Regions from separate parts of the Homo sapiens genome. Here region 1 is linked to region 2. The links come from fine-mapping of genetic effects on gene expression. A gene starts in region 2. The other region holds a variant in brackets. All regions are shown on one strand. Distances are between the middles of the regions.

Region 1 (16,341 bases), 76 kb after region 2:
CTCTCTCTCTCAGTTATACTTGCTTTTTTGGCTGTTAGAATTCTCAACAAATTTGGCAGAAGCAGAGCCATAAGCAACAGCAGCAAGATGTAAAGTCTTAAGGAAAAGCAAAGTGTGAAAGGAAAAGCCTAAACTAATTAGTAGAGCCACTGAGCATAAATATAAGCATAGATGTGAGTGAGTGGGGGTGGGGGTGGGTGTGTGTGTATGAATTTAGCAGGTGTATTCTTAATAAAAAGTTGTTGAATGAAAAGACCCTGAGGTTTTTACAGTACAATAGCCACATCTCATGAAATCATGTTCACTATTTCTGCTTAAGAAGGTAGCATAAGCTTTTTAGAAAAAACAGTACCTGACATTATTTTCTTTCAGTAATTATTGAGTGCTTATTTGCTAGACACCGTACTATTAGTACTTCAATAGGATTAAATGAGCTATTATCTTCATTTTACAGATGAGAAAACTGAGGCACAAAAGAATTAACTTCAGTTTGCCTACAAAGTGAACCCTCTTAACCTCTATGCTGCACTGCAGTGAGCAGTTACTGCAGGAAGGTCCAACAAATAACAAGCAACAGCAAAATGAAAAACAGAATGAGTCCTCTAAAGCACAAATGACACCAAAAGGACAATAATCTGAGTCACTTTAGTATGAGAGAAATAAGCCTACATGCCTTTAAAACAATAAAGATTGTTCAATAGTGGTTAACTGAGTCTTCAAAAAAAGTAGATTAAAACGTAAACTACCATAAGTACAGAACTTACCATGGCAATAACGTGGTTCAAGCCAAAATTTAAGTTGCCAAAAAGAAAAATTAAATAAATAGGACATGTGGCTAATTCTTTACTTTCTAAAATCATCTGAGTAAACACGGCACTTACAAAAGCTTGCCCTACCATAAAATAAATATGATTTAGAACATTAAGCAAAATAAACGCAAACATACTCTCAAAACTATAAATTATTATAAAATTATTAAAGACAGTTGCTTTATTTTAAACAAACATTGAAGTTTTTAAAAAAATCCTTAAAAGCAGAATAGTATGGGGCGCCTATTTTGCTTTTCAACAAAGCTGGCATTAACAGATACAAAACATTTTAAATTTCATCTAATTTAACAGCTAACTCAAAAAACAGAATTTAAGAAGAAGATAGAACAGGCTTTTACAAAATAAAAACCAACCTTATATTTTAAAAATTTATGTAAGATTTCTTTGAAACATGTATTAAAGTTTGGCTGCATCAATAAAATGTACTGCCCAGCACATCACAGCGGATAGCATGCTATTTGAAGTCATGCATTTTAAAAAGATGACTCTGGCAACTAAAGAAAAATGAGTATGTGGAGGCCAAGACTGAAAGCTGGAAGTACCAGTTAAGAGACAGTTACAGCAGATTAAGCAAAAAATGACTTTGAGCAAGTTACCTAATGTGTCTCAGTTTTGTCATCTGTAAAACTAGTAGTAACAGTTATCTACCTCACAATTATCATATGGATTTAATCCACATGTTAAGCAGCTGTAAAGGCTTGAAGTAGGCAATGACAGTACACAGGCAGAGTAAGGGTAGATTTAAGAAATTTAGGAAGTAAAACTTAGGAGGACTTGGTGACAATGAGATTGTGTCTGTTTTAAAAGCTGATGTTCATGTCAAGATTCAGAAGGAAAGAGGGCTGTGTCTGCTGAGCTAACATGGGCAGAGGGAGAATTGCAGTAAATGACATGCATATGCCATCTCTGCTCCCAGATGTCTGGCTTGGGAGGGTGACTGAGAAAACTGTAGTGCTATTAAGATTAAGAAAACAAAAGAATAAATAAGTTCTCTTTCAACAGCAGTTTGATGGGTCCACGTGCCAGCAAGATAGAGATACTCATCAGGAAGTTGGCCATGCAAGTTTGAAATTTGAGAGAAGAATCACAAAAATGCAAAGGCTGTGCTCAAATAAAAATGAACTCCTTTGGTAAAGTCCTGGTCTTCAATTCACTAATGTTAAGGTGGGAACCATCCCATTACTCTGGAATGTATGTTCTTAAATCAAGTGATCAGATTTTCTTACATTGGTAGAGGCAAAGGAATGGGAATCATATACTAATGGATTTTATACAAAACACAGCATAAAAAAATTACCATAACACTTTTAAGATTAAAACCAGATTAAAAATTAATAAAACTTACAAATGACAAATGTTTTCTACATACTAGACTGAAAGACATTATTGCATTTTCTATTTTAAAATAAAATGACTCTATCTAGAATGGTTTAAGTGAGTTCCTCTCAAAGCAGAAAACTTCTTAAGATTATTTTCTATAAGGTCCTTCAGAAACAAGAAACCCTCTAACCTTAGAGTTACTTTTTATCAATTCTTACCTTGCCAACCTAGACTTCTCAGCCAAACTTCCTAATCTTAATTCCTTAGCAGATATGGTAAATTCCTTAGAAACCTACTTGATGATGTACAACTATCTTCATGATCCTATCAATATACTCAGGCAACTATCTAATCACCAAGGTTATGTGTTGGGAAGGGAAAGGTGAAATACATCGATCCTTCTGTCTGAAGACTTGATTAACTCTCAGCCAGGCACAGTGGCTCACGCCTGCCACTTTGGGAAGCTGAGGTGGGAGAATTCTCTGTAGCCAGGAATTCAAGACCAGCCTTGACAACACAGGAAAACACTGTCTCTACAAAAAAATTCTAAAAAAATTAACCAGGCATGGTGGTGTGTGCTTGCAGTACCAGCTACTTGGGAGGCTAAAGCAGGAGGGTCACTTGAGCTCAGTAGTTCAAGATTGTAGGGAGCTATGATCACATCACTGCACTCCAGCCTGGGCAATAGAAGAAGACTGTCTCCAAAAAAAAAAAAAGACTAACTCTCATGCTCTTTATTTGCGTTTATGCTAACTAATGCTCAAACTCTGCTATGCTTCTGATTCTGTCATACTAACTAACAGGCCTGAATCCTGGCATCACTGGCCTTATACTTCTCATGAAAGCACAAGATAATAACTAAGGAACACATTAGTATAGTGTAGATGGAGAGAGCTTAGGATGTGGGGCCTTATGATCAAGGGAAGACATGACTGAAAAAAGAAACAAATTTTTGGCCTGGCGCAATGGCTCACGCCTGTAATCCCAGCACTTTGGGAGGCCGAGGCGGGCGGATCACGAGGTCAGGAGATCAAGACCATCCTGGCTAACACAGTAAAACCCCGTCTCTACTAAAAACACAAAAAATTACCCGGGCATGGTGGCGGGCACCTGTAGTCCCAGCTACTCGGGAGGCTGAGGCAGGAGATTGGCATGAACCCGGGTGGTGGAGCTTGCAGTGAGCTGAGATTGCGCCACTGCACTCCAGCCTGGGCGACAGAGTGAGACTCCGTCGCAAAAAAAAAAAAAAAAAAGAAACAAATTTTTTAAAAGAAAGCAGCAGTTACGATAGAAAATCTCTAATAATCAAGCCACAAAATACATTAAACATTCCAGCAAACAGATATACAGCACAGACTACACAACAGGCACTACTGTAAGCACTACAGTACTTACACATACTGATTCATTTCATCCTAACAACTCTACAGTATTTAGTATCATTATACCCATTTTACAAAAGAAACTAAGCCCCTAAGATGCTAAGCAATATGTCAAACATCCTACAGCCAAGTAACAAAGCCAAGAATCAAACCGTAGCAATCTGATTCAAGTGTCAATGTTCTTAACTGCTGTACAATGCTGCTTTTTCCCCATAAACAGGTACAAAAGTAACCGTCTAGTCTCCTCAGAATTTTCCTGCTTTTACAGAGAAAATGAAATCAGCCCAGTAATGGCTCTAAAGCTAAGTCAACTAGGTTTAAACCCAGCTCTGCCAATTACTAATTGTCTAACTCTAGGAAAGTCACCTCTCCTCTGTAGAATTGTTTCCCAAAATATTTGTAAGGTTTTTCCTGGTTTTAACAGTATACTAAAGTAAGAAAAAGAACCAAGCAAGGGCATAAATATATATTACTAATAAAAGGTATATAAACAATATGACATATCTACAAATATATTAATAAATGTTGACATTACATGCAAAAATATTTCTTTCTTTCTTTTTTTTTTTTTAATTGAGACGGAGTCTTGCTCTGTCTCCCAGGCTGGAGTGCAGTGGCGCAATCTCAGCTCACGGCAACCTTCACCTCCCAAGTTCAAGCAATTCTCCTGCCTCAGCCTCCTGAGTAGCTGGGATTACAGGTGTGTGCCACCATGCCCAGCTAATTTTTTTGTATTTTTAGTAGAGACGGGGTTTCACCATGTTGGCCAGGCTGGTCTCAAACTCCTGACCTCAAGTGATCCCCCGGCCTCGGCCTCCCAAAGTGCTGGGGTTATAGGCGTGAGCCACTATGCCTGGCCTACATACAAGAATATTTCTAATAATAATTTTAAAGTATAAAAGGCAGAAAGTTTAATAATATTTACATTTAAAATAATCTATTTTTACACTTAATACTAAAGTGGTACACAGCAACATCACTTTGGCCCTCTCTCACATAAACAAACGTGGCTTTAAGAGCAATCAGATATAAACCACAGATAACACGAATGTACATGTCAAACCTGAGGAAATTTAGGTTTTTTAAAAAAAGTACGGCTAGGTGCAGTGCACATGCCTGTAGTCTCAGCTACTCAGGAAGCTGAGGCAGGAGGATCACTTAAGCCCAGGAGTTGAAGACTGCAGTGAACTACGCACCACTACGTACCACTGCGCTCCAGCCTGGGCAACAGAACAAGACCCCAACTCTAAAAATAAATACATGAAAATCAGATGTTGTAAATAAGATATAAAATAAGGAAATAAAGAATTAAAAAGACTTCAAGACGCATTTAACATGATGAAAAAAAATGAATAGATTGAAAGGAGTACACAAAGTACTCTAGTTCAATCAAATCATCACAACCAGAAAAAACTTGCCCCAGTCCACCGCTCAGGAGCTTTAGCAGCCCCATCCAAGCATTCTACTGAAATGCCAATTAAATACACACAAAGGCCTCCTAAGGCTATAAAAGAGCCACTGCCATTCTATTTGCTTTATAGAAAAATTAGTGTTACACAATATATAACTCAAATACCAAAGTGTACAAAAATTCAACTCTATAACATACAGTGCTCATCTTAAGATATAAAATCTATTCCATATAGAACAAAGGCATTACCAAAAAAATGTCAGGAATACAGTTTCATTGACGTCAAAAGTCAAAATTTAAAAGATCAGTACCTGTCTGAGTAGTGTATGTTATAAACGTATTTGCAAGTATTTTTCCCTGTTTTCCTTCAAAATCTTCATCTCCTTCTTCAGATGAAGAGCTAAACTGTTCTTCAACAAGTTTTCTGGCTGCAGCTTGGTTAGCTTTCTTGATTTCTTCAAATTTTTTCTGAGACATTAGCTCTGTTTAAAAGAAAAAAGTTTCATTTCTGCAAAACAATCTCTCAAAAAGAAAAGCATAATGTGCTAATATATCATTTTACAACACACATTTGAAAGTCACCTTTGGAGCATTCTACCTTCCTGTAATCCACGAGAAAAGTATTTTCAAATTCCTTGACACACAACTAAAGAGAATACCACAACAAAAACTTTCACTTTTCTAAGTATCCTGCTAAAATGCAGCAAATTTTTATGATAACGGTGATTAACAAATCAAGAAAAAAAATATGAAAATACAATAAAACTATCAAAATACTGGTGATCAACTTCAAAATAAGGACTAACAAAAATTAAGATGTTTTAAAGTACATTGTGCACAGTAATTTTTAAGAAGTGAGGGAACATGTCCACAGTGAGCACATAAAGAATCAGGGAAGGTAGGTATTTCAAACTACCGTCTTCTGAACAACAGGTAGGATAGGACACGACGGCCCAGCCCAGTCCAGTCCAGCCCTACCAAAGAGTTTGTACCAACAGTACTCACTATGCACCCACTATATTTACAATCGGCTTCTTAGGTCAAGAACTTTTTGCCTTTATTATGGACTTCTTGTGGTCACACAAAAAAACATATTTTACATTAATCCACACAAAGTATTAACATGGAAAACATGTTTCTTCCAACTTCATTCCAAAAAGAATGTTAATTTTGGATTCGTTCTTCCACTATTCAGCACTACCTGTACTTCTCATTTTGTTACTTGATTAATCATGCAAAACAAAACCAGATTACTTCACTGCACATACTCCCAAAGAAACTTCAAACTTCTTGAGAGCAAGGACCACAGGGATTTTCTTCAAGCACTAAGTGTTAATAAGCTCTTACGGACAGCAAACATAGTTTAAGAAAGGAGCCACAAACCTGCAGAACTGATCTGAGTTCATGAATTCCCATCTTGAGAGGATTTTAAATTTACTGATTGACTATTTTAAAATTAACATTATACTTAAAACTGATAAGCCACTACCAAGATAAGCTCTCTTATCTTGGGTGGTATATTCGTACTTGATTATGTTCCCTCATGAAACATTTTCCTTTTCTTATTGCAGCCAGTTTGGTTAGGGGTTATTAACAAAACAAATTGAGTATTTCAAGTAAACCTCGACGAAAATGTGTATCATGCTTACCTAGCAAGCTTTGAGTACTGGGAAAAAAGAACTGGCTATGAGATATATAACTCAAAACTTGTCACAAAAGAGATGATAAATGTCATTAATATACGGGAAATTAGCACTTAAAAGATACATAAGAAAACAGGCTGAACTGGACAGAGATAATGAGAACATTCATAACCTGATAAATGTATTCACCTAACATCATCTCAAAGTAAAGAGAAGCTGACAAGACAACCTTCTCACGTATTATTTCTTACAGCCAAATCTCAACTGTCCAGGTAGAGAATGCTTGTTTTCTTTTTCTTTTCTTTCTTTTTTTTTTTTTTTTGAGACGGAGTCTTGCTCTGTCGCCCAGGCTGGAGTGCAGTGGGGCAATCTCGGCTACTGCAAGCTCCGCCTCCCGGGCTCACGCCATTCTCCTTCCTCAGCCTCCCGAGTAGCTGGGACTACAGGCGCCTGCCACCCCGCCCGGCTAATTTTTTGTATTTTTAGTAGAGACGGGGTTTCACCCTGTTAGCCAGGATGGTCTCCATCTCCTGACCTCATGATCTGCCCGCCTCGGCCTCCCAAAGTGCTGGGATTACAGGCTTGAGCCACCGCGCCCGGACAGAATGCTTGTTTTCCTTCTACCCACGAGATGGAGACCATCCTGGCTAACACGGTGAAACCCCGTCTCTACTAAAAAAAAAAAACCAAAGAACAAAAAACAAAACATTAGCCAGGCGTGGTGGCAGGCGCCTGTAGTCCCAGCTACTCGGGAGGCTGAGGCCGGAGAACGGCCTGAACCCAGGAGGCAGAGCTTGCAGTGAGCCGAGATTGCGCCACTGCACTCCAGCCTGGGCGACCAGCGAGACTCTGTCTCAAAAAAAAAAAAAAAAAAAAAAAGTTTACCAAACCTGTTCACACGTCTCCATATTGTATACCTTATCATCACGGCCATTAACTGCATGCTAAGAGAATACCACCTACCTTTCAAATTAGCCTAGGAGAAAAATCATTCAAGATACTCAATTCTGCTCCACACCCCCCAAAAAAATGTATCCTGAAATGCATTCCAAACACAAAAATAAAATGATTTCAGGGATTATTCCCTCGGCCCCATGCACAATTGTGTGTAAGTCCTCCCTGGCTCCACGAAAACATGGTCTTGGATGAAAAGTATTGATATATCGGAGGCAACACCAGATATGTCCACAGAAGGACATGGAATTTGTAAATAGGAACTACAGTCAAGGAAGGTATCAAAAGCTCAAGTGCTTACAAGGAATAAGACAAGTCAAGAAACAAAGGCAAAGGTAAAGATGACAAATGACACCTGGCTCCAGAAATGAGAGAGAATGTGAGATGGAATGCCCAAGTCCAATCTAAATGGGATTTCTGTGACTCAGCCGAGCTGACTGTTGCCATGCACAAAGATAACTAAAGCCACAAGGTTGTTAACCAGATTTTTAAAAACGACAAACAACCGCTGACAATCAATCCACATTTAAAACTCTGTGTTAACCAAACAACATTATAGACCAAATCAGAACACCGGGCCACAATTTACAACTGATGGTCTGGAGATTCAAGTAGGCAAGAGTGGAGGGAAGTAACAAAGGTAATACCACCTAAAATTAAGATGAAAGAGGTGCGATGGAAATCTACCTAGAGTGCCGAAAAGAGCAGCCACCCGAAAGGCTGGAGAAGTGGGCCCGATAACAAACTCCCGAACGAGGGGAAAAGCAGTGAAAGAAAGAAGGCGAGGGCGGAGGCGGTCCTGACTAGTAACTGCCTTAGGAGGCATCCAGGTGAGCACGCGGGCGGGAGCCATTCTCACCGCTGGCTGCGGTAGTCTGCAGGGCTTGGGATCCTGCGGGGCTGTGCCTGCTCCCTGCAGCCGCCGTGGTCGCGACTCCTCCGGGACTGGTGCCAGAAGGAACTGCGCCCACCGACCCCTTCTCTCGCCCTCCTCCGGCGCCGCGGAGATGGACTCCATTTCCTGAGGGGGCGGCAGTGGCCCGTCCCCGGGATCGGCCTCGGCCACCGGCCACCTGGCGCCAGGAAGCTTCCATCCCTGCAAAGGAGAAAAAAAAAAAAAAGAGTGGAAGGAGGTGAGCGCAGCGAGGACCGAGGCGAAGGAGGGTCAGTGCGGAAACCCGGTGTGAGGGGCCGAGTGAGGAAGGTTCCTGCAGGGCGGCGACCGGGTTTTAGGAGGTCGCGGCCCTGCCTTTACCGGAGGGCGAGTCCCCGCCAAGCCCGGGCTTTGGAGATGGACCGAAGAGGGGAGGGAGGACTAGGTACAGAAATAAACCGCGGAGCAAGAAGCACACAGTGCCGAAGACAGAAAGCCGGAGGAGAAGTCGAAACCGCCTCCTCAGCCTCTGCGGGAGCGTGGTAGGGGAAGAGTCACAGACTGACCCTGCGTCTCCCGCCGGGAACCAACTGCAGTGGTACACCCCACGGAAAGCTACGTCTCCTTACCGACTGCGCACGCCCCCAACAGACTACAACTCCCAGAAGCCCCCGCCCGCGTTCCGGCGACTGCGTGGCAGCACGGGCCGCTTCCTTATCCGGTAAAGTGCGGGGGTTGGGTGGGAGGGAAACCCCAAGCGCCTGCGCTGGCCCGAACAGGCCTTTGGGAACTACAACTCCCGGCGTGCTCTGGGGCTAGGGAGGGGTCGAAGGTCATAGGGGCGCGTGGTGGTGGAGGCGGGCGGGTCCGGAGGGTTTCGTGACCCCACAATTTGCTTCTGCTTCTGCAAGACTGCCCTAAACTCACCTGGGTATGAGGATTACATGGCTCTGTCCCTAATTGGCTCTCTGCCATCTTTTATTAGCCTTGCCTTTGAGCTTGCGGATGACAGGAGGTGTCAATGTAAAATAATCAAAAGCGCGAAGTTTGAGGATAGCCTACCTAGAAACACCGACTCCAAGGAAGGAGTCAGCGTTCCGAAGTAGAGATTTAAGATTTCACTTATATAGGCAGAAACTGAGAGGTTTTTTAGCAGGATTACAGCATTTTCTCATACAAGGTTAGAGAATAGTTACAACAATTTGATTATAGACAGTGTTTCTTTTTGGGAAGTGTACATTTAACATTTTTCATAAAGGATTTTCTGTCATCTGGTCTAAGCAAACCGGGGCAACAAAGCAGAAGTTAATCTATAAGGATCATTAAGAAGGCAGGAAGTTTTTGTCCTTAACTTCGTTTAATTCTCTCTAGCCATTGTATAGAACAAGAAAAATAAGAAAGCAAGTTAATCTATAATCTGAGAAACAGAAGTTGTAACCACGTGTAACTCAGATGACAGTCACATCTCTCTCC[A/G]GGCTTAGTGAGTTTTAGGCTCCAACAACCTTTAAACTATTTATTTTCATAGGGAAGTCTCACTAACAGGAAAGGCACTTACATTGAAAACGCTTTGAGGTTGGCCACTGTGAAGGAGGGAAATTCGGGGGAGAGTTGCAGGAAAGTGGCTTGAGTAGTAAAAGTACCCTTCTAAAATGCTAGAGCCAATGTAGAAAATAAATCTAAAGCCTGTTATTGTCATAGTCCTTTGTAGTGTGCAATGAGCTTTCCCTGGGACATGCTAATTTTTACCTTCACAGCATCTCCCTAAAGTAGATTTTGTTAAGGAAAATAGTTGAGGGCCAGGACCTAAATCTTATGATTTTGCTGAGTTTTCCAATAAGATACATGTGCATATATACTGACAGGTAGATTGCAAAAATTCATTCTGGGGTCTGTCTGGGATTGAGAAACATATTGATGGCTTATTGTACAGTCCTTCAACTTAGTTAATTCTTCTATTTTAACCATAAATTTCTATTATAATATTTAGATAGCATTTATTAGATGTCAGGCACTGTTTAAAGTGTTTTACGTTATGTATTAACTAATTTGGTACTCACAGTAACCGTGTTTATTATCCCCGTTTTACAACTGAGAACACTGAGGCACAGAGAGATTAAGCAATTTGCCCTTGATCATACAGCTAGGAAGTAGTGAAGCCAAGATTCAATCCTAAGTAGTCTAGTATTAGAAACCATGCTTTTAATGTCTTAAACATAGATATTGCAGAATTGCCTGTACATTAACCAAACTCAAAAATGACATCCCATGGCCAGGCATGGTGGCTCACGCCTGTAATCCTAGTACTTTGGGATGCCAAGGCGGGTGGATCACCTTAGGTCAGGAGTTTGAGGCAAGCCTGGCCAACATGGCGAAACCCTGTCTCTATTAAACATACAAAAATTAGCTGGGCATGGTGGTGGGTGCCTATAATCACAGCTACTAGGGAGGCTGAGGCAGGAGAATTGTTTGAACCCAGGGGGCGGAGGTTGTAATGAGCCAAGATCGCGCCACTTCACTCCAGCCTGGGCAAAAGAGCAAAACTCCGTCTCAGAAAAATGAAAAGAAGAAAAGAAATAACATCTCTGAGAATGATATAACTTCATTGGCTAGAAACTAACAGGTGCACAGCAACTCTCTTAATGCTGCACTTGTATAAGAACTGTAAGTTTAAAGCTGCAACCAGCTTTCAAAGTTTGAAAACCCTAAAGTGAGACTTTTCTTCAGTGGGGTTTTCACATACAGGAAAGGAGCTGTTATACTCTGAGAGAGAATATAGTAATTATCACTGAGTAATGTCCAAGAAGTATTGAGTGGCTACTAAAAAGAGAGATCCTTCTTAGAATTATGTTATATGCCAGAGAGCTGGACTAGCATATTATCTAAATTTCCATGTCAAACTTTATTGAGAAATTTTTTCTGTTCCCTCAAATATTCAATAGCTAATAACAGTGACCAGCAATCCTTGAGTGCTTTCTATGTGCCAGCATTCTTCTAGGTCCTTTTTTCTTTTACTCATCTAATCTTCACAATAACCATGAAGTAGGTATTGTTATCGTCAAAACAATTTTTTTTTATTATACTTTAAGTTCTAGGGTACGTGTGCACAATGTGCAAGTTTCTTACATAGGTATACATGTGCAATGTTGGTTGGCTGCACACATCAACTTGTCATTTACATTAGGTATTTCTCCTAAAGCTATCCCTCCACCAGCCCCCCACCCTGCAACAGGCCCTTGTGTGCGATGTTCCCCTCCATGTGTCCATGTGTTCTCAGTGTTCAACTCCCACTTATGAGTGAGAACATGTGGTGTTTGGTCTTCTGTCCTTGTGATATTTTGCTGAGAATGATGGTTTCCAGCTTCATCCATGTCCCTGCAAAGGACATGAACTCATCCTTTTTTATGGCTGCATAGTATTCCATGGTGTATATATGGCACATTTTCTTTATCCAGTCTATTATTGATGGACATTTGGGTTGGTTCTAAGTCTTTGCTATTGTGAATAGTGCCTCAGTAAACATGCCTGTGCATGTATCTTTATAGTAGCATGATTTATAATCCTTTGGGTATATACCCAGTAATGGGATTGCTGGGTCAAATGGTATTTCTAGTTCTAGATCCTTGAGGAATCGCCACACTGTCTTCCACAATGGTTGAAATCATTTACACTCCCAAGAACAGTGTGAAAGCATTCCTATTTCTCCACATCTTCTCCAGCATCTGTTGTTTCCTGACTTTTTAATGATTGCCATTCTAACTGGCGTGAGATGGTATCTCATTGTGGTTTTGATTTGCATTTCTCTGATAACCAGTGATGATGAGCATTTTTTCATATGTCTGCTGGCTGCATAAATGTCTTCTTTTGAGAAGCGTCTATCCATATATTTTGCCCACTTTTTGATGGGGTTGTTTTTTCTTGTACTTTTGTTTAAGTTCTTTGTAGATTCTGGATATTAGCCCTTTGTCAGATGGATAGATTGCAAAAATTTTCACCCATTCTGTAGGTTGCCTGTTCACTCTGATGATAGTTTATTTTGCTGTGCAGAAGCTCTTTAGTTTAATTAGATCCCATGTGTCTATTTTGGCCTTTGTTGCCATTGCTTTTGGTGTTTTAGTTATGAAGTCTTTGCCCGTGCCTGTGTCCTGAATTGCATTGTCTAGGTATTCTTTTAGGGTTTTTATGGTTTTAGGTCTTACATTTAAGTCTTTAATCCATCTTGAGTTAATCTTTGTGTAAGGTGTAAGGAAGGAATCCAGTTTCAATTTTCTATATATGGCTAGCCAGTTTTCCCAGCACCATTTATTAAATAGGGAATCCTTTCCCCATTTCTTGTTTTTGTCAGGTTTGTCAAAGATCAGATGGTTGTAGATGTGTGGTGTTGTTTCTGAGGCCTCTGTTCTGTTCTATTGGTCTATCTCTCTGTTTTGGTACCAATGCCATGCTGTTTTGATTACTGTAGCCTTGTAGTATAGTTTGAAGTCTGGTAGCCTGATGCCTCCAGCTTTGTTCTTTTTGCTTAGGATTGTCTTGGCTATGTGGGCTCTTTTTTGGTTCCATATGAACTTTAAAGTAGTTTTTTCCAATTCTGTGAGGAAAGTCAGTGGTAGCTTGATGGGGATAGCATTGAATCTATAAATTACCTTAGGCTGTATGGCCATTTTCACGATATTGAGTCTTCCTATCCATGAGCATAGAAGGTTCTTCCATTTGTTTGCGTCCTCTTTTATTTCGCTGAGCAGTGGTTTGTAGTTGTCCTTGAAGAGGTCCTTCACATCCCTTGTAAGTTGTATTCCTAGGTATTTTATTCTCTTTGTAGTAATTGTGAATGAGAATTCACTCATGATTTGGCTCTCTGTTTGTCTGTTCTTGGTGTATAGGAATGCTTTTGATTTTTGGACATTGACTTTGTATCCTGAAGTTGCTTATCAGCTTAAGGAAATTTTGGGCTGAGACAATGGGGTTTCGTAAATATACAATCATGCCATCTGCAAACAGAGACAATTTGACTTCCTCTTTTCCTAATTGAATACCCACCTTTATTTCTTTCTCTTGCCTGATTGCCCTAGCCAGAACTTCCAATACTATATTGAACAGGAGTGGTGAGAGAGGGCATCCTTTTCTTGTGCCAGTTTTCAAAGGGAATGCTTCCAGTTTTTGCCATTCAGTATGATATAGGCTGTGGGTTTGTCGTAAATAGCTCTTATTATTTTGATACGCGTTCCATCAATAACTAATTCATTGAAAGCTTTTAGAATGAAAGACTGTAGAATTTTGTTGAAGGCCTTTTCTGCATCTATTGAGTTAATCATGTGGTTTTTGTCGTTGGTTCTATTTATGTGATGAAATATGTTTATTGATTTGCGTATGTTGAACCAGTCTTGCATTCCAGGGATGAAGCCAACTTGATGGTGGTGGATAAGCTTTTTGATGTGCTGCTGGACTCGGTTTGCCAGTATTTTATTGAGGATTTTCACATGGATGTTCATCAGGGATATTGGCCTAAAATTCTCTTTTTTTGTTGTTGTGTTTTTGCCAGGCTTTGGTATCAGGATGATGCTGGCCTGATAAAATGAGTTAGGGAGGATTCCCTCTTTTTCTATTGATTGAAATAGTTTCAGAAGGAATGGTACCAGCAACTTTTTGTACCTTGGTAGAATTCAGCTGTGAATTCATCTGATCCTGGACATTTTTTGGTTGGTAGGCTATTAATTATTGCCTCAATTTCAGAACCTGTTATTGGTCTATTCCGAGATTCAACTTCCTCCTGGTTCAGTTTTGAGGGTGTATGTGTCCAGGAATTTATCCATTTCTTCTAGATTTTCTCGTTTATTTGCATAGAGGTGTTTATAGTATTCTCTGATGGTAGTTTGTATTTCTGTGGGATTAGTGGTGATATCCCCTTTATCATTTTTTATTGTGTCTACTTGATTCTTCTCTTTTTCTTCTTTATTAGTCTTGCTAGCAGTCTGTCTATTTTGTTGAACTTTTCAAAAAACCAGCTCCTGGATTCATTGATTTTTTGAAGGGTTTTTTGTGTCTCTATCTCCTTCAGTTCTGCTCTGATCTTAGTTATTTCTTGTCTTCTGCTAGCTTTTGAATGTGTTTGCTCTTGCTTCTCTAGTTCTTTTAATTGTGATGTTAGGGTGTCGATTTTAGATCTTTCCTGCTTTCTCTTGTGGGCATTTACTCCTATAAATTTCCCTCTACACACTGCTTTAAATGTGTCCCAGAGATTCTGGTATGTTGTGTCTTTGTTCTCATTGGTTTCAAAGAACATCTTTATTTCTGTCTTCATTTCGTTATTTACCCAGTAGTCATTCAGGAGCAGGTTGTTCAGTTTTCATGTAGTTGTGTGGTTTTGAGTGAATTTCTTAATCCTGAGTTCTAATTTGATTGCACTGTGGTCTGAGAGACAGTTTGTTGTGATTTCTGTTCTTTACAATTGCTGAGGGTGTTTTACTTCCAATTATGTGGTCAATTTTAGAATAAGTGTGAGGTGGTGCTGAGACGAATGTATATTCTGTTGATTTGGGGTGGAGAGTTCTGTAGATGTCTATTAGGTCCACTTGGTCCAGAGCTGAGTTCAAGTCCTGGATATCCTTGTTAATTTTCTGTCTTGTTGATCTGTCTAATATTGACAGTGGAGTGTTAAAGTCTCCCATTATTATTGTGTGGGAGTCTAAGTCTGTTTGTAGGTCTCTAAGAACTTGCTTTATGAATCTGGGTGCTCCTGTATTGGGTGCATATATATTTAGGATAGTTAGTTCTTCTTGTTGAATTGATCCCTTTACCATTATGTAGTGGCGTTCTTTGTCTCTTTTGATCTTTGTTGGTTTAAAGTCTGTTTTATCAGAGACCAGGATTGCAACCTTTGCTTTTTTTTTGCTTTCCATTTGCTTGTTAGATCTTCCTCCATCCCTTTATTTTGAGCCTATGTGTGTTTTTGTGCATGAGATGGGTCTCCTGAATACCGCACCCCGATGGGTCTTGACTCTTTATCCAACTTGCCAGTCTGTGTCTTTTAATTGGGTCATTTAGTCCATTTACATTTAAGGTTAATATTGTTATGTGTGAATTTGATCCTGTCGTTATGATGTTAGCTGGTTATTTTGCCCATTAATTGATGCAGTTTCTTCATAGCATTGATGGTCTTTACAATTTGGCATGTTTTTGCAGTGGCTGGTACTGGTTGTTCCTTTCCACGTTTAGTGCTTCCTTCAGGAGCTGTTGTAAGGCAGGCCTGGTGGTGACAAAATCTCTCAGCATTTGCTTGTCTCTAAAGGATTTTATTTCTCCTTCACTTATGAAGCTTAGTTTGGCTGGATATGAAATTCTGCATTGAAAATTCTTTTGTTTAAGAATGTTGAATATTGGCCCCCACTCTCTTCTGGCTTGTAGGGTTTCTGCCAAGAGATCCACTGTTAGTCTGATGGGCTTCCCTTTGTGGGTAATCCGACCTTTCTCTCTGGCTGCCCTTAACATTTTTTCCTTCATTTCAACCTCAGTGCATCTGACAATTATGTGTCTTGGGGTTGCTCTTCTCGAGGAGTATCTTTGTAGTGTTCTCTGTATTTCCTGAATTTGAATGTTGGCCTGCCTTGCTAGGTTGGGGAAGTTCTCCTGGATAATATCCTGAAGAATGTTTTCTAACTTCTTTCCATTTTCCCCATCACCTTCAGGTATGCCAATTAAATGTAGATTTGGTCTTTTCAGATAGTCCCATATTTCTGGGAGGCTTTGTTTCTTTTCACTCTTTTTTCTCTAATCTTGTCTTCTCACTTTATTTCATTAATTTGGTCTTCAATCACTGATATCCTTTCTTCCGCTTGATCGAATTGACTCATGAAGCTTGTGTATGCTTCACGCAGTTCTCGTACTGTGGCTTTCAGCTCCATCAGGTCATTTAAGCTTTTCTCTACACTGGTTA
Region 2 (16,341 bases):
TGGTGTCAGAGAGTTGCAGCAGTGGTGTCAGGAAAGATACCATGCATCTGGTGTCAGGAAGGAAAAAACACACCACTTGTCAGCTATCAGAAAGGGAAGAGAGAAACAATAAAGTAAAATGGGACAGTGTCCTGCTCATTTTCTGCTGCCACATAAAAATTATAGCCTTTAGATTGAAAAAGGCCCTGAAAGAGTAAATAGTCCAACTACCTCATTTTACACAAGTAAACCAGGATCTAAAAGGTTAACTGACTTCTGTAAAATCTCAGCAACCTAATACCAACTTCTTATTGAACTCCCCTTTCTGATGATGCTTGACTTGGACAAAACTGTTTTAAAGGATGACAGAGAAATAGTAAATAAAACAATATAGCTTTGATTTCCAAACCACACTACAGAGAAGTAGCATCTTGCTCCCAGAATAAGGCTCTAAAATAGGCACATGAAGATGAAAATCATGTACTGTCAAACTAATCCCTGAAAAGCCTTAAGAGAGTGTCACATTGGAGACCAATGTAACTTCCAACAATAAATCCCACATGGTGTTTGTTTTTTTTTTGTTTCAGAGCTGGAACAGGCTCATCGGTTGAGTACCAGATTAATTAATTGGCTTGAGGTTAGGGAATAAAATGGCACAATCTTTAAACCCAGGATCACACGTGGAACTGCAAAAAGGATACACATAAAAGGCACCAGGTTCTGAAACTAATGGCAGATTCCTTTCTCTCATCTTTTGCTCTTACTCCAGGACACTGAATAGAATGACTCATATTAATTAAACATTCATCTCTCCTCCCTGCACTCATGGTTTAGGGTTTATTGCTTAGTTAGAAACCAAGCTTCACAAGTGCATGAATCCCTGTTTTGTTCATAGATGTCTCCTAAGTGCCTAATAATATACCTGTCACATAAATGTTTGTTAAATAAGGAGATGAATGTATTCTTTTTGTCCAGCCTGTATAGTTGAATTCTCATACATTAAAGCTATTTAGGTCTAGCTATGGCTTTCACTTCTTGGGAAGTTGTGGTGCTATTACCAGAAAAATTCAAACAGAACTATGCATAAAAAGATTTTTCACCATTCAGGAGGTTCTTGGAGTCTCAGATTAAGATTTCCTGGTACTGTCAATCTCTATCTATGACACTTCAGCAGAATGACACTTTTGTGGCTTCAGAGACACTGACACCTACTTTCATAGCTGCATAGGACTTTAAAACTCCCCCAAAGTGCTACAAACAAAAAGTACTCTTCAAGTGCTGTCAACCTAAAGGTTAACAGGTTGAAGGGACCCTGGGCTAAGGAAGCACAAGCTGGAGACACCAAAATGGTCTTCGCAACTCGCCTCTATATTTTCTGCCCTGCTCCTAAGCCAGCCTGTTGGCCGACTGGCCCTTCTCCACAGATGTCATCTTGAGCCTCTTACAGAGTTTCAGCACTGACATTAATGACAAGATGGATCACCTACAGGACAACCTTGGATCCTCAACCAGCCTGATTAAGCATTGACACTGCATTTGTCACCACCAGCTCTGATGGTTTGGACATGTAGAAATGTATTGCAGGAGAATATGCAAACAGCTGCTGTAAGGTGAGCTGATCGGGACAACTGCCAGCAGGCAGAAGGGAAGGCATAATTAATGGGCACCCTTCAGCAGAGCTCAGAGCAGACCAAACGCCAATGCAGAAGGCTCAAGAAAGAGGCAAACAGACTAGCCACTGCTCCAGGATGACTGTGGCTCTTTATGAGTGAAGAGAAAGGGTGGAGACTGAAGACAGAACTGGGGACAGTGACAGGCTTGGGGAAGAACAGCTGATTCAGCAGTCCCAAGGTGAGTCATCCCATGTGTTCCACACCCAGGTAGAAAGCGCTCATTAGCAGAACATAATCTCCCAACCTGCATGATGATCGTCTGTCCATGAGAATAATAAACATTACAGATTGTGCTTGCACTAAAGCAGATTTAGTAAAGCCTCAGGAACAGAATATACTTCATGGGGTAAGAAATCCAGCTAGGGAAAAGACTGACCTATCTATGCATCTGTAATGGGTTGAATAGTGTCTCCAAAATATATGTTCACCGAGAACCTCAAAATGTGTCCTTCCTTTGCATATAGGGTCTTTGCAGTTGAAGTTAGTTAGGACAAGGTCATACTGGATTAGGGTGAAGCCTAAATCCAATATGACTGATGTTCTTATAATAAGAGAACACACAGAAACACACACCAGGAAGGCCATGGAAGTAAAATATATAGTTTGTCAAATGAGGATGAGTTCAAGAAGGGGTCCTACGTAGTGAGGTGGAGTATTAGTTTTTAAGCCTGATTAAATTAAACACTTGGTGGATCTTTCCCCCAAACATTGTACTTAGTATTATAGTGCTTTCATTCTTGTAAAAAATGGTACAACATGTAGGAGTACATATGGAGGGAGAAGAGCCTCCTTCTGTTGTATTAGTTTCTGCTGTAAAACCAGGAAAATCATCGGCCATAAAGCTCATAGGGAGGGAAAAGAACAATACATAAGCAAAATCATCAAGGCTGAAGGGGAGAACTCAGAGGATTATGTGACTAATACTCACTTGTCAGTGATTTATACATCAATCTGGCCATTTACTATTCAACAAATGCCTAGGCCACGTAAGAGACCTCAACAAACGGAAGTGATTCTGCTATAGGAAACCACTTCTTAAAAGAAAAAGAAGCAAATAGAGGTGCTTTACAGGAAAACTTTTTCTTTTCTTTTCTTTCTTTCTTTCTTTTCTTTTCTTTTTTTTTTTTTTTTTGAGATGGAGTCTCGCTCTATCACCCAGGCCGGAGTGCACTGGGATGATCTCGGCTCACTGCAGCCTCTGCCTCCCGGATTTAAGCAATTCTCTTGCCTCAGCCTCCCAAGTAGCTGGGACTACAGGCAGGTGCCATCACGCCCTGGTAATTTTTTTGTATTTTTAGTAGAGATGGTGTTTTGCCATGTTGGCCAAGCTGGTCTCGAACTCCTGACCTCAGGTGATCCATCTGGCTCAGCCTCCAGTAATCCCAGTGAGCCACTGTGCCTTGGCCTAGGAAAATTTTTATCATCCTAAAATCTTATATCATCACTCAAGCAAAAGAAAGCTCTAGAACTGCCTGAGAGAACAGCCTGCAACGAAGGAGATCATGTATCTGTGCTGCCCAATACAGTTGCCACCAGCTTTATAAAATAACTGAGCACTTAAAATGTGCCCAAGGAGACTGAAGAAATAAATTTTTAATTTGATTTAATGTTGATTAAATTTAAACAACCACAATTGGCTAAGAGCTACTCCATTGCATCACATGGCTCTAGAGTCACAGAAAGCTGCCTGTGGAAAAAGTCTTGAGACATTTCTCACCAAGTCTAGGATGAGACTGGATCCTCAAGTAAAAACAGATTAGGAAACAAATCACCAAAGCAATTACGAGCAAGAAAAAAAAAAGCTAGAGGTATCATACGTCATGATTTCAAAATATATTACAAAGCTACACTAATCAAAACAGTATGGTACTCATATGAAAACAGCCATATGGCCAAACAGAAGAGAGATCCCAGAAATAAACTCATACATACATAGTTGACAAGGATGCCAAGAATATACAATGGAGGAAAGATATGTCTTCAACAAATGGTGCTGGGAAAACTGGCTACACATATGCAAAAGAATAACATTGGAACTTTATCTCATGCCATGCACAAAAATCAAGTTAAAATGGATTAAAGACTTAACCATAAGACCTGAAACTGTAAAATTTCTGAAAGAAAACATAAAGGAAAATCTTGACATTGATCTCGGCGATAATTTCTTGGATACGACACCAAAAGCATAGGCAAAAAAAAAAAAAAAAAAGCAATAATAACCAAATAAGATTATGCTAAACTAAAAAGCTTCTGCATAGCAAACGATATGATCAACAAAATGAAAAGGCAATCTATAAAGTGGGAGAAAATATTTGCGAATCATATATCTGATAAAGGATTAATATCCAACATATATAAGGAACTCCTTCAATTCAGTAGCCAAAAAGCTAATAGCCTGATTTTAAAATGGGAAAAAGACCTAAATAGACATTACTCCAAAGAAGACATAAAAATGGCCAGTAAGTATATGAAAGATGCTCAACATCACCAATCAACAGAGAATTACAAATCAAAACCACAAAGAGATTTCAGCCCTTTGCCACTGTTAATGTGATCAAAAAACAAAAGATAACAAGTGTTGGATGCCAAGAAAATGCATCTCTTGTATATGGTTCATGGGAATGTAAATTGGTGCAACCATTATGGGAAAGAGTATGGAAGTTCCTCAAAAAAATTAAAAATAGAACTATCATATGATCCAGCATATGATACCAGCATACAGTATAGAACTAACATATGATCCCATTTCTAGATATGTAACCAAAGAATTTAAAATTGGGATCTTGAAAAGACATCTGCATTCCCATGTGCATTGCAGCATTATTCACAATAGCAAAAACATAGGAGCAGCCTAATGTCCACTGATAGATGAATGGATAAAGAAAAATGGGGTATATATAAACAGTATGTATATATACATACAGTACAATATTACTCAGCCTTAACAAAGAAACAAATCCTACCATTTCTGACAGCAGAGATGAACCTAGAGGACACTATGCTAAGTGAAATAAGCCAGACACAGAAGGACAAATACTACATGATCCCACTTAATTGAGGAATCTTAAAACAGTCAAACTCATAGAAGCAGAGAGTGGAATGGTGGTTTCCCAGAGGAGGAGGAAATGGGGAGGTATTGGACCAAGGGTATAAAGTTTCAGTAATGCAAGATAAATAAGTCCTAGAAATCTACTACACAGCATGGCTTCTGTAGTTAAGAATACTATATTCTATACTTAAAAATTTGCTAGGTGGGTAGATCTTATGTTAAGTGTCCTTATAACAAAATAATAATAACAATAATAAAGATGGCAGAAGGGAACTTTTGAAGATGATGGATAGGTTTGTGACATTAATTGTGGTGACGGTTTTATAGATGTATACTTGTTTCCAAACCTATCACATTGTTTACATTAAATATATACAGGTTTTTGCTCGCCAATACTTCAATAAAGTAGTTTTTTAAAAAAAGGTTAGGGAACCTTCACCAGAATATACCACTATTACATAAAGTACTTCTAGTACGTATTCCACAGTCTGCAGTGTCCTTACCAGTGGTCAGTAGTACCATCTACATTTTCTGACCAAGGAAACTGAGGCCCAGCAAGATTATTTGACTTGCCCAGAGCCTTGCGGTTCTTAAGGGGCAGAGTCAGAGGTCTGACACCAAAGCTCCTACTCTTCCCACCAAGGCAGGTCATCTACAGCACCTTCTACTCTTAAGGGGTCTGCCATTTCCACCCTCTCTGAACAGACATAAAACAAACAAGTGTATTATGTCTGTGTGTGTCTTTATGTGAGTGTGTAGACTCTGAGGAACAGGTAAGTCTTGGAATCCCTTGAGTGTTTAGTGTGAACCTAGTATGTTTAGCCAGCCAGTATCAGGTCAGTACCCTTTAGCCAGCCAGCCTCATTTTCCATTTGGTCCAGCAAAATGGAATGCCAAGAATAGTGATGGGGCTAACAGGATGCATGAATCCATACTTGTTGAATAACTTATTAGGTAGAAGTAGCAGGTCAAACAAACCTTTCCCCCTCAGATACGCTCAGCAACAATTCAGTGTTGCGGCTCTCCTGCTCCTCAGAGAGCTCTTATTACCCCAGCAGTGGGGACACTCAGAAACCCTAAGACCACAAGTCTTTGTGTTGAAAGAGGCTACAAGTGCGGAAAAGAGGAAAAATAAGGAAAGGAGTACCTCATTAACAGTATGGAGATTTGAAAGTACAGGCTTTTGAAAGTGACTCTCTGAAGCTCCTGGGCCACTCAGCTTCTCCTCTAACTTCCTGTCTGCCCCCAACAGTGGGGGAGGTCAACAGAGGGGCTGGCCAGTCAATAGAACTAGCAACTGCTGAAATCCACATGAAGCTATGGTGGAGAATGTGACCCTTCCAAAAGGAAACCACAGCTGGTTGTGGAATGCAAGATGCGGAAGCACTGATGCCTGCCTTCTATGCTGTTGCTATTGTGATTTCTGCAGCATTATGAGGAAGGTTTCTGATGGAATGAATTTTGCATCTTTTAAGAAAGTGTCTCTGTACCTGGATATGTGCTTGATAAGGTTAATAGAGCAATTCTTGGTGTGTCTTTTTAACCCACAGGAAGGTTAACAGAGGCTTTCATCGTTGGTCCTGTAAGCCTACCCTGAAAGGAACTTTCTGGAAAGAGTCCCCTCCCCCTTAAAAAATGCCTTATAGAATCTTGGGGTTTTGAGGTTGATGTGTTTCCACACCCAAATAACCCCAAAATAGTTCATCCTATTGAAATTCTTGGTGTCCTGGAAAGCATTCTATGGAAAACCTGCCTGGTCAGCCAAGCCCACACGTGAGTCTATGCAGACATCTCCTCTAACCTCGCAAGCCCCAGGAACCTCCTCTAACCTCTCAAGTCCCAGGATCTGAGGACCAATTTTTAGCACAATCTCACACAACAAACCTATTGGGCACCTAATAATAGAAACAAGCTAATGAATGTTTTGACTGTGACAAAAAAAAATGGTTTAATAACTTTTTATAAATGCATTGTTTCTTCTCATTGTCTCAGGGTTATGCCAAAATTAATTTCAAAACTATCTGCTTAAATGTGTCCTTGGACAATAATCACCAGTAAGTCCTGACTTCACCCCCTTTCTGGTAGCGGTCTGACGTTCCTTTGCAGAGTTTCGCTTCCATCGATAAGTTACTTTAAATAAAAAGTTAAAATAAAAACTAGAAGCCACAATTGTGCCTATGTCAGTCATCGAAGTCTTGTACAGGAGTCCGTCTTCGCAGCGCATCGTTCTCAGAAGTTTCCCGCGGGAGGAAAGCTCCACTTTATGAATTACTCGAACAGCTTCCCTGGGAATGCCCAGCCCCGAAGCTTCCCTGCTGAATTCAAAGTCAGAGCTCCCAGGGCTCGGTCCCAGGAACCGGGAGCCGTGCAAAAAGCGCGTACACTGCCATCCACTGGCCCCGAGCAGGTAGTAGCAGGAGTGAGGCGCCTGCCACGGGAGCTCAGGAACTGGGTCCCAGTAAGATCCGACAAGACACCACCTCCCTTCCGCCCGCACAGCCTGCCCTCTCTGCCTGCAGCTAGCGTCACCGGTCGGTCCCCGATTCGGAGCAGCTGGGACCCTCGCGGTAGCAAGCGGATTCCGGGGCCCTAATGACACCGAAGGAGAGGGGCAGCCGCAAATTAGACCTTCTTCCTGGGGGCTCAGGCCAGTAGGGACTGTCCGTGGTGCCCTTCCCTTTCTTTCTCCTCCTGAACGAGAGCCAACGCTGCCCCTTCCCAGGACTGGATCTGAGCCAACCAAATCCTACAGCGCAGAGCCTGCGCCCCCGGCGGCCAGCCCTCCTGTGCCTAGGCAGGTTCACGCCGGAGAAAGTTTGCACGCAGGGACCTACAAGTTCCCAGCACTCTGCAAGAGGGCCAGTTCTGGGATGCCAGCACTTAGGACGGGCGAGTGATCCCCAGGCACCAACTGGGGGCCGGGGAACCAAGCGCGAGCCCGGGCTGTGGAGGGACCGACACCCAGGCGCTCGCAGCTGGGGAAGGGGGCTTACGTCTGGGGCAGGCAAGACTGCTGCACAGTCCCTCCAGCCACCCGGCGCCCGAGACGCCGGCGCAGACAGGAAGCTGTAGATCCCCGAGGGGCTGGCTCCGACAGCTCCACCTGCAGCCTCCCCTGCCGCCAGTGTGCAGCCAAGTCCACTAGATGCTTGGAGGGCACCGTGCGGAGGAGGGACTCTGCAGGAAAGGTGGCATCACCCCCGGCATGGAGACCGGGGTCTCCGGATCGAGCCGACTCGAACACTGAAGGAAACCCTGCCCATGACCCTGGGAGGGTCTCGGACGCCGGGCGACCGGGGTGGTGGTCGGGACCAGGGCCGTGCGCCTGGGAACTGGGTGCAGGGCGCTGAGCGCGGAACTGTCAGAGCGGGAGCTCACCGGCGGCTGGGGAAGGAGGTGGCATCGGGCGGAGGAGAGGACGGGGGCGGGAGGGGCTGACCCTGAATTCACCGGGACTAAGAGGCCATCACACCTGGCTGCGGTAGGACAGCGAATCATCGATCTTACCGGCTTTGGGGACCCGGCTCTGCGGCAGCGCTCTTCCGGAGCGAGGGCAGGAGACTGTTTCATGGATAAAAAGTCTCGCTTATTCTTCTGTCCACTTTTATCTTGGTCGCTTTTCTCTCCTCTACGTGTCCCCCGGGGAGGCACTACGGATGATTTTCTCCAAGCTCAAGAGAGACAAACTGAACTTTAAGCGCCAGGGGCCCCATATTTTGTCTGCTCTACAGATCCCACCCGCGGGCCACACCCTCCCTTCACTCCCGTCTCTGGGTCCCACCCATAATAACCCGTAATGACAGATCCTCCGTGTCCCCACCTCTTTGCATTCAAAGAAGTTATTCTTCAGGGGCATATGGAAAGTCAGTTTCTGCTGGTCTCCCTCAAAAACTTACACTCCACGAGGGCAGCAGAAAAGGACAGGACGATTAAGTTTAAGTTGTGGAAGACTGGTTGGGAGCAAAAGAGTTACTTTTCTCCAAATTTGCCATATCACATCGAAAGCATTTTCTTTTAACCAGAGTGTAGCCAATCAAAATTAACTGCAGGCGCTGGCAATTAAAGAACAAGTTTATCTCAAAAAAGGTTTAACGTTTGGAGGCCATTATTTGCATCAGGCATATGGAAACTTGCGTTCTGTTAGGTATGCTGAAGAAACTGCTTTTGCCAGACTGCCTGAGTCTTTGCTGAGGCTGCAGGGACAAGGGAGAACCCCACCCTGACTGCTTCCAAAACCCTAGTTCCTGATTTCCTGCAGAGGGCACCTACAGGCTGAACCTAAAAGGCGAACAAATTCCTGCCTGTCATTCAAAAGCAGCTACCTTTTCTAAGGCAGCGTCAAGGAGGGCACTGGAGGTACTCAACACAGTAATGATTACTTTACCAAGTCCAAGGCAATTGTCAAATGTGGCAAAGAAAAACACTTCATTGGGTTTTTCTTAGAAATGATTTTTCATCCAATTTCAATCAAGATCTTAATGGAAATTTTGAAAATTACTCATGAGGTTATTTAATAAATCCATCCCCATTATTTAAAGAAAGCCATGTAAAGACAACAAAATATGGGCCAAGCACTTGTTCTTGAACATTATTGCTGAGAAAAAAATATGCATTTGTAAAATGGGGGGGGCAGTATTTTGTTTCTGAAGTGAGATCAAATGTAGAAAATATTGCATATGTATAGTAAAATGACTGAAACACTGATTCCATGTTATTCTAACATCCGATTTGTAAACCAGTATCTGACAAATTTATCATAATTCACAATAATTCAGTTCATATTATGTGGCAGGTGTCATACTAAGCACTTTACATGTATTCTTTCAGTTCCACCAACTACTCTGAGGAAGAAGCTATTATTTTTATTTTAGAGATAAGAAAGCAGATTCAGGGAGCTGAAGTGAAGTAACCAGCCTACGCAAGCTAGCAAGAAGCTGAGCTGGGATTCCCCCGAGGCAGTGACTTCTGGATTGTGTTCTTACTAAGATACTACCTCATCACACACCATCACCGCAGTGCCAGTCTGGGAATCAAGAACTGTGAGCAAATCACATAGTCTTTCTGGGCCACAGTTAACTCAGCCTATAACATAAGGGCTGGATTCAATTGCTAAGGTTTCTACAGGCATTCTGAGGCCAAGTACAAGTTTCTATTTCATCTTCTTTCTCTTCCACTTTCTGCCCTCTGGTGGAGGTGCTACAGGGACTATGAAATTAAAGTAGCTACGTCAGTGGATTTGAGATAGGGTCGATCAGTCTCCCTCACTTTTCCACTTTTAGTTCCTCTGAGAACTAAAGCTAATTGCATTAATGGTGTAAAATAAACATTTTTTAAACTTCCTTTTAGCAAGAAAACCCAACCAGTTCTAGTTACCAACAGCACCAGAATTAATACCTGAGGTATTCTTTGCATGAAGGTAATGACATAAAAAATGAGGGTAAAGATGTTTTATATTCTTTATAATAAACTTTTAAAATGTCAAGAATCATAAACTATTAGAAGTCTCAAAACATATTCAAACTGATTTGAATATGCAGTGTGCTCATTAAAATGTCAAGAATCATAAACTATTAGAAGTCTCAAAACATATTCAAACTGATTTGAATATGCAGTGTGCTCATAGTAATCTTTAATGACCTATTTGAATTATTCTTTAAAAAAAACTAGCTACATTTGCATTTCAGCTTCAAGTGACAACCATCATCTAGTTTCTTAAAATAATTTTACAAAAAGAAACATTTCTAGCCTATTGAAACTTTTATTGTCTAGCACTTCAAGCATACATCCAACTAGTTAGATAATTTAAAAGAAAACACACACAAACCTTGAAGAGATTTATGGAAAAATTAAAGATATTGAATATACCTCAGGAAACGGTGATTTTACAGAGCAAACTTCAGCCACATATCACATTACAGATCAAATTAGTACTTAGTACTACAACTGAAGACAATTTAAGAACAAGAAGAGATCACGGAGAAGCAAGCAGCATCCCAGGATGATAACAGGCAAGCAGTAGCTAAAACAGATATGCTACCCCATGGCTCATCTATTTAGCTATTCATTCAACTAATACTTATTTTGGGTTTGCTGGCTGCCAGATGAACAACCTAGACAGAGTTCCTGCCCTCACCAAGACTTTCAGTCTTGTGGAATGTATTAAACAAATACACAAACATGTAAACTATGAAAAAATACTTGCAAATAATGTGAGAATAGCTTTGGGGAGTTAGAATGTAATATTTTCAGCTGAGATATAAAGATACAAAGCCTTCAAAATAAAAAAAATTAAAAACAGCAAGAAAAAGGTAAACTGGAAATTTACCTGTTGCAGAGAGGGGAGAGTTTATTTAGTCAAAAGGGGGAAAACAACATACCCATATGTACTATAATACACTCTAGCCCATTGATATATTCAGTATCTGATAAAACAATTTGTGTAGATCTTCTGTTTGATGTACATAATATTTCTGGGACATCAATCCCCTACTCTAATATACCACAGTAGTCATTGGGAAGGAGGTAATATATGACCCTGTAAGAAATTTCAAAGGAATTTTATTTTTAGTCCTCTCACACATCTAGTGCTATAGAGGGGTCCCATAACTGCAATTTCACTGCCTAAATATGCCCCTACCTTTGGCCAGCATCCCACCCAGTCCTCCCTCAATGACGTGGAGCTCCCTCAATGACATGGAGCTCCCTCAATAACAGTAACCATATGTGCAAAAACTGAGATGCCTCACCTCACCTCACCTCACATCTGATGCCTCAGATTTTTTTTCTGATTTGTGAATCAATTTGAGATGTCTTAAAGTTATGAGGTAAAGTCACATATCTATATTATTGTAGCTAAGCTATTCTATGTACTATGTGCCAGGCACTTCATAAAGTGACATATAATTTTCTAGGTTTTTCATTCTTGAAACAAATCTAGTTTCCTTTGTCATAAAATGAGAAGTGTAATAGGCTCACCTAATACGGTTGTTATGAGGATTACATATAGAAAGTGCTTTAAAATAGCTATAGACACATAATAATAGTTAAAACTTATTGGGCACTTACTGTTATTTCTTATTGTCACCATTTTACAGAAGAAACTGAGGCTTACAAAGTTAAATAGCTTGCCTAAGAGCTCACAAGTAGAAAGTGGTAGAAGCAGAATTGGAGCCTAAAAAATCTGGGACCACAAACTAATCCTTATGTTCTGTAGCAGTTATTAAGAGAAGACTGTGATGAAAACATCCAAGGGGTTTACAGCTTAGAATACACTCTGAATTTTCATTCACCCAATAAATATTTACTGAGCACTGTAGTAGGTTAGTGTCCCCCCACTACTCCCTGCCAAATTAATGTCCACCCAGAACCTCAGAATGTGGTTCTGTGGAAATAAAGGCTTTGCAGATATAATTTGTTATATCTTGGTTTGGGACTTCTGGCCACCTAAACTGTGAAAGAATAAATTTCTGTTGTTTTAAGTAACTCATGTATGGTATCTGTTACAGCAGCCCTAGGAAACGAATACTAGCATCTACTATGTGGCCAGGCTTCTCTACTCTGAGGTTACAGTAATAAACAAAACTGCACTCCTGCCCTCATGAAGCTTACATTCCAGGGAAGGAGGCAGATAATAAACAGACACTTAATATGAGGACAGGTACTATTTAGTGCTATGAGGAAAAAGTATTGTGAGAAGATAGAGGATGACCAGATGACAGTGACTGGGGGGGGGGGCTTTGGAAATATTAGGTGATGTATTAAGAGAATACATATATGGGATACAGAGGTGTTAACTCAAATGAATCTGGACTGTGGAGTTTCAAACTGCATACAATCCTTCACAGCACGACTTAAATTACTAATTGGAAACTTAGCAAGAAGAGAAGCTTAGTAAGCAATAGACCTGAGCTTGTTCAATAAGCCAAGATTCTAAAATATGTAAAAATGGCTTCCCAGGTGGACACCTGGTCTTGCTTGTCTCTTTAAGTTGCTGGAAATCACAGGGTCTCTCAGTTCCTCCCACCACTCCCAAATTCTCGCATCTTTTCTAGGAGGTAGTAGCTAGTACTTTGCTTCTTCCTCACCCTGGAAGCTCCCCAGCCTCATAAGCCTTGGGTCTTAGAGTGGTCTAATCACTGCCACTCGATAAAGACTGCAACTTCCACAGACCCAAGAAGAGACAGAGCTATCTCATGTCAACTCTAGCTCTACAGCTTAGACATCTGCTTCAGTTCCCAATATCCAAGGACAGACAGACATTAACAGCTAGAGTCACCTGGGTCCTCAGAGGTTCTTTTTACAGCCTTCCTTTTACTGTCCTATACCTGGTCACAGCAATTTTGGCTACTGCTGCATTTTTAGTGTTCTTGGTTTAACACCCAACTAATTCTTTGTTCTTCTGGAGATCAGCATACAGCATCTCCCATTGTTTTAATAATCTTGATTATAAAAGGATGGATGAGGCCCAAGCACCCTAAAAAGTCACCCTTGGCAGTGGGCTAGATCCCCCACATGGGTGGCCTGGCTTAATCTTCACCTGTTTGCTTATGTGGAAGAACCCACAACACAGACCATATGCATAGTGAGGACAGAATCTTCTATTAAGTTCATCACTGTGCCAGGTATCTAGGCAAAGAAAAAAAATATTTCTCAAAGAGAAATGGAACACTTTAAAATAAATCTCTTCAAATTTTGTCTTAAATAGTATATCTATTTCCAAATAAAGCCTGTTTCTGGTATTACTCATGAGCATTTAAAATAACATGAAGAGCCAAAAAATTCTTATATGTCATCTCTCTCTAAACACTAGCACAGAGATTAATCTGTATTTAAAATTTTTAACCTTCATAGCCATTAAGTTCAAGCATCATAACTTCTTTATAGAAGGGAAATGTTTTCACTGCTTTGCCTCAGCAAAATTCCTTTGACAATTTCAGTAGCAATTGTACTTATTTGAGATTGTTTTCATTTAATTTAGATGTGAAATTAACTGAAAAACAGTTTGTCAATTCTGAAAAGCATTTAAACCAAAAAAATCTAAAGATTTCAATATACATATTCCACAGATTTCAAATAGGAAGCTCATACACTTTGTTAATGCCACAAGTAAGGAGGAAAACAAGACCACCACATTCACAATCTTAGGCCATTGTTAGTGGCTATTTGGTAACTTTTTCCATTCCTTCTCTAATTCGCTCAGATTGAACCTAAAAGGACAATATGCATTACTTTATTTCCCTCAGAACAAATCAGTATAACTACTTAGATAAAACTTAACTTGTCTCTGCATCATTATAGTCTTTTCTCTATATCGTAGCCAGCGGTCTTTAAAAAAAAGTCTCTTCCTTGTTTAAAGCCTTCCAATGCTGTCCATTGCAACTCAAATACAACTCAAATTTCTTACCCTGGTCTATCAAGCATGACATAAACTGGCCTAGACACATCCTCCTCTCAATTTAAATTTCATTAGGCTCCAGCCACACCAGCCCTTCTTTCTGCTCCTCAGGTGTGCCAAGCATTTCCCAAACTGGGGACTTTGTACTTACTGCTTTCTCTCGTATAGATTTTTCGCTGATCTTCAAATGGAGGTCATTCAGGTCACGGCTCTAATATCCTCATCTCAGAGGGATTTTCCCATTCTAAATTAGCCAGTGTCCTTGTATCCCCTACTTCCACCACATTCTATACCATTCCTCTTATTTTCTTGAATACCACTTACCACACATAAAATCACGTTTTTTTATGTCTATTACCTGCCTGTGCTTGTCTGTGCCTTAGCAACAATATAGGAGGAAAGATCACCATTATCTCCAGAACACAGAAAGTTCCTGACATATAGGAAACACATCTGTTGACTGAATAAGTGAAGGAATAGTTGTGTGACTTTGGGTAAATAAGTTACACTCTGAGCTAGCCAAAAAGATGAAAAAACAACAAACAACTTCATATACCATTCATTCAGTCTCCTTCCTCTGCTCCTAAATTCTTTTCCCCAAATTAGGAAAAACAATTTAGCTAGTACCGAAGCCCTACAAACAACAGATATGAACTAGGTTTCATGTTCACTTAATAGGCCAAGATTCTGACACAGATGGAAATGACTTTCCACGTAGACACCCGGTTGTTCCCTTAACACTCAACTTTTAGTTAGTACAGGTAATAACTTGAGTGTAGTGTATCTGATTTAGAGCTTCTGAAATGCCAACCCTGTAATTCTACCACTGGGAAAGGTTAACAATTCTAAAATCAAAACACCCATGAAGAAAGGAATGACTGTCCTTTAATTCTGGACACCAGCTAATACTTAGGGCCAGGCGCAGAGGCTCATGCCTGTAATCCCAGCACTTTGGGAGGATGAAGTGAGCAGATCACTTGAGGCTAGGAGTTCGAGACCAGCCTGGCCAACGTGGTGAAACCCCATCTCTACTAAAAATACAAAAAAAAACAAAAACAACAACAACAACAAAAATTAGCCGGGCTTGGTGGCACATGCCTATAATCCTAGCTACTTGGGAGGGTGAGGCACAAGAATCACTTGAACCTGGAAGGCAGAGGTTGCAGTGAACTGAGATCATGCCACTGCACTCCAGCCTGGGCAACAGAGCGAGATTCTGTCTCAAAAAAAAAAAAAAAAAAAGAATATGACACTAAATTTTGAATTAGATCCAGCATAATTTTAAAATCCTTCCTACTTCTGCAATCAGGCAGGAGAAGGAAATAAAGGGCATTCAATTAGGAAAAGAGGAAGTCAAATTGTCCCTGTTTGCAGATGACATGATTGTATATCTAGAAAACCCCATCATCTCAGCCCAAAATCTCCTTAAGCTGATAGGCAACTTCAGCAAAGTCTCAGGATACAAAATCAATGTGCAAAAATCACAAGCATTCTTATACACCAATAACAGACAAACAGAGAGCCAAAACATGAGTGAACTCCCATTCACAATTGCTTCAAAGAGAATAAAATACCTAGGAATCCAACTTACAAGGGATGTGAAGGACCTCTCCAAGGAGAACTACAAACCACTGCTCATTGAAATAAAAGAGGATACAAACAAATGGAAGAACATTCCATGCTCATGGGTAGGAAGAATCAATATTGTGAAAATGGCCATACTGCCCAAGGTAATTTATAGATTCAATGCCATCCCCATCAAGCTACCAATGACTTTCTTCACAGAATTGGAAAAAACTACTTTAAAGTTCATATGGAACCAAAAAAGAGCCTGCATTGCCAAGTCAATCCTAAGCCAAAAGAACAAAGCTGGAGGCATCATGCTACCTGACTTTAAACTACACTACAAGGCTACAGTAACCAAAACAGCATGGTACTGGTACCAAAACAGAGATATAGACCAATGGAACCGAACAGAGCCCTCAGAAATAATGCCACATATCTACAACTATCTGATCTTTGACAAACCTGACAAAAACAAGAAATGGGGAAAGGATTCCCTATTTAATAAATGGTGCTGGGAAAACTGGCTAGCCATATGTAGAAAGCTAAAACTGGATCCCTTCCTTACGCCTTATACAAAAATTGATTCAAGATGGATTAAAGACTTACATGTTAGACCTAAAACCATAAAAACCCTAGAAGAAAACCTAGGCAATACCATTCAGGACATAGGCATGGGCAAG

Evidence for each region.
Region 1: its variant is fine-mapped to the expression of CORIN in whole blood (TOPMed, PIP above 0.99).

The regions. Positions count from the first base shown.
Region 1 is chr4:47,905,570-47,921,910 of GRCh38, forward strand. NFXL1 (nuclear transcription factor, X-box binding like 1) reads right to left here and starts at 9,014. Exons shown (of 23, transcript NM_001278624.2): 1 at 8,796-9,014; 2 at 8,400-8,636; 3 at 5,255-5,425. The coding sequence starts at 8,634. It overlaps LOC101927157 (a long non-coding RNA gene), which reads left to right and starts at 8,658. Exons shown (of 3, transcript NR_125879.1): 1 at 8,658-9,135. RefSeq lists enhancers at 7,882-8,568, 8,569-9,254, 8,765-8,994. The variant A/G (reference allele first, on the strand shown) is at 9,888.
Region 2 is chr4:47,829,679-47,846,019 of GRCh38, forward strand. It overlaps CORIN (corin, serine peptidase), which reads right to left and starts at 8,389. Exons shown (of 22, transcript NM_006587.4): 1 at 8,209-8,389. The coding sequence starts at 8,271. LOC101927179 (a long non-coding RNA gene) reads left to right here and starts at 1,667. Exons shown (of 3, transcript NR_125881.1): 1 at 1,667-1,830.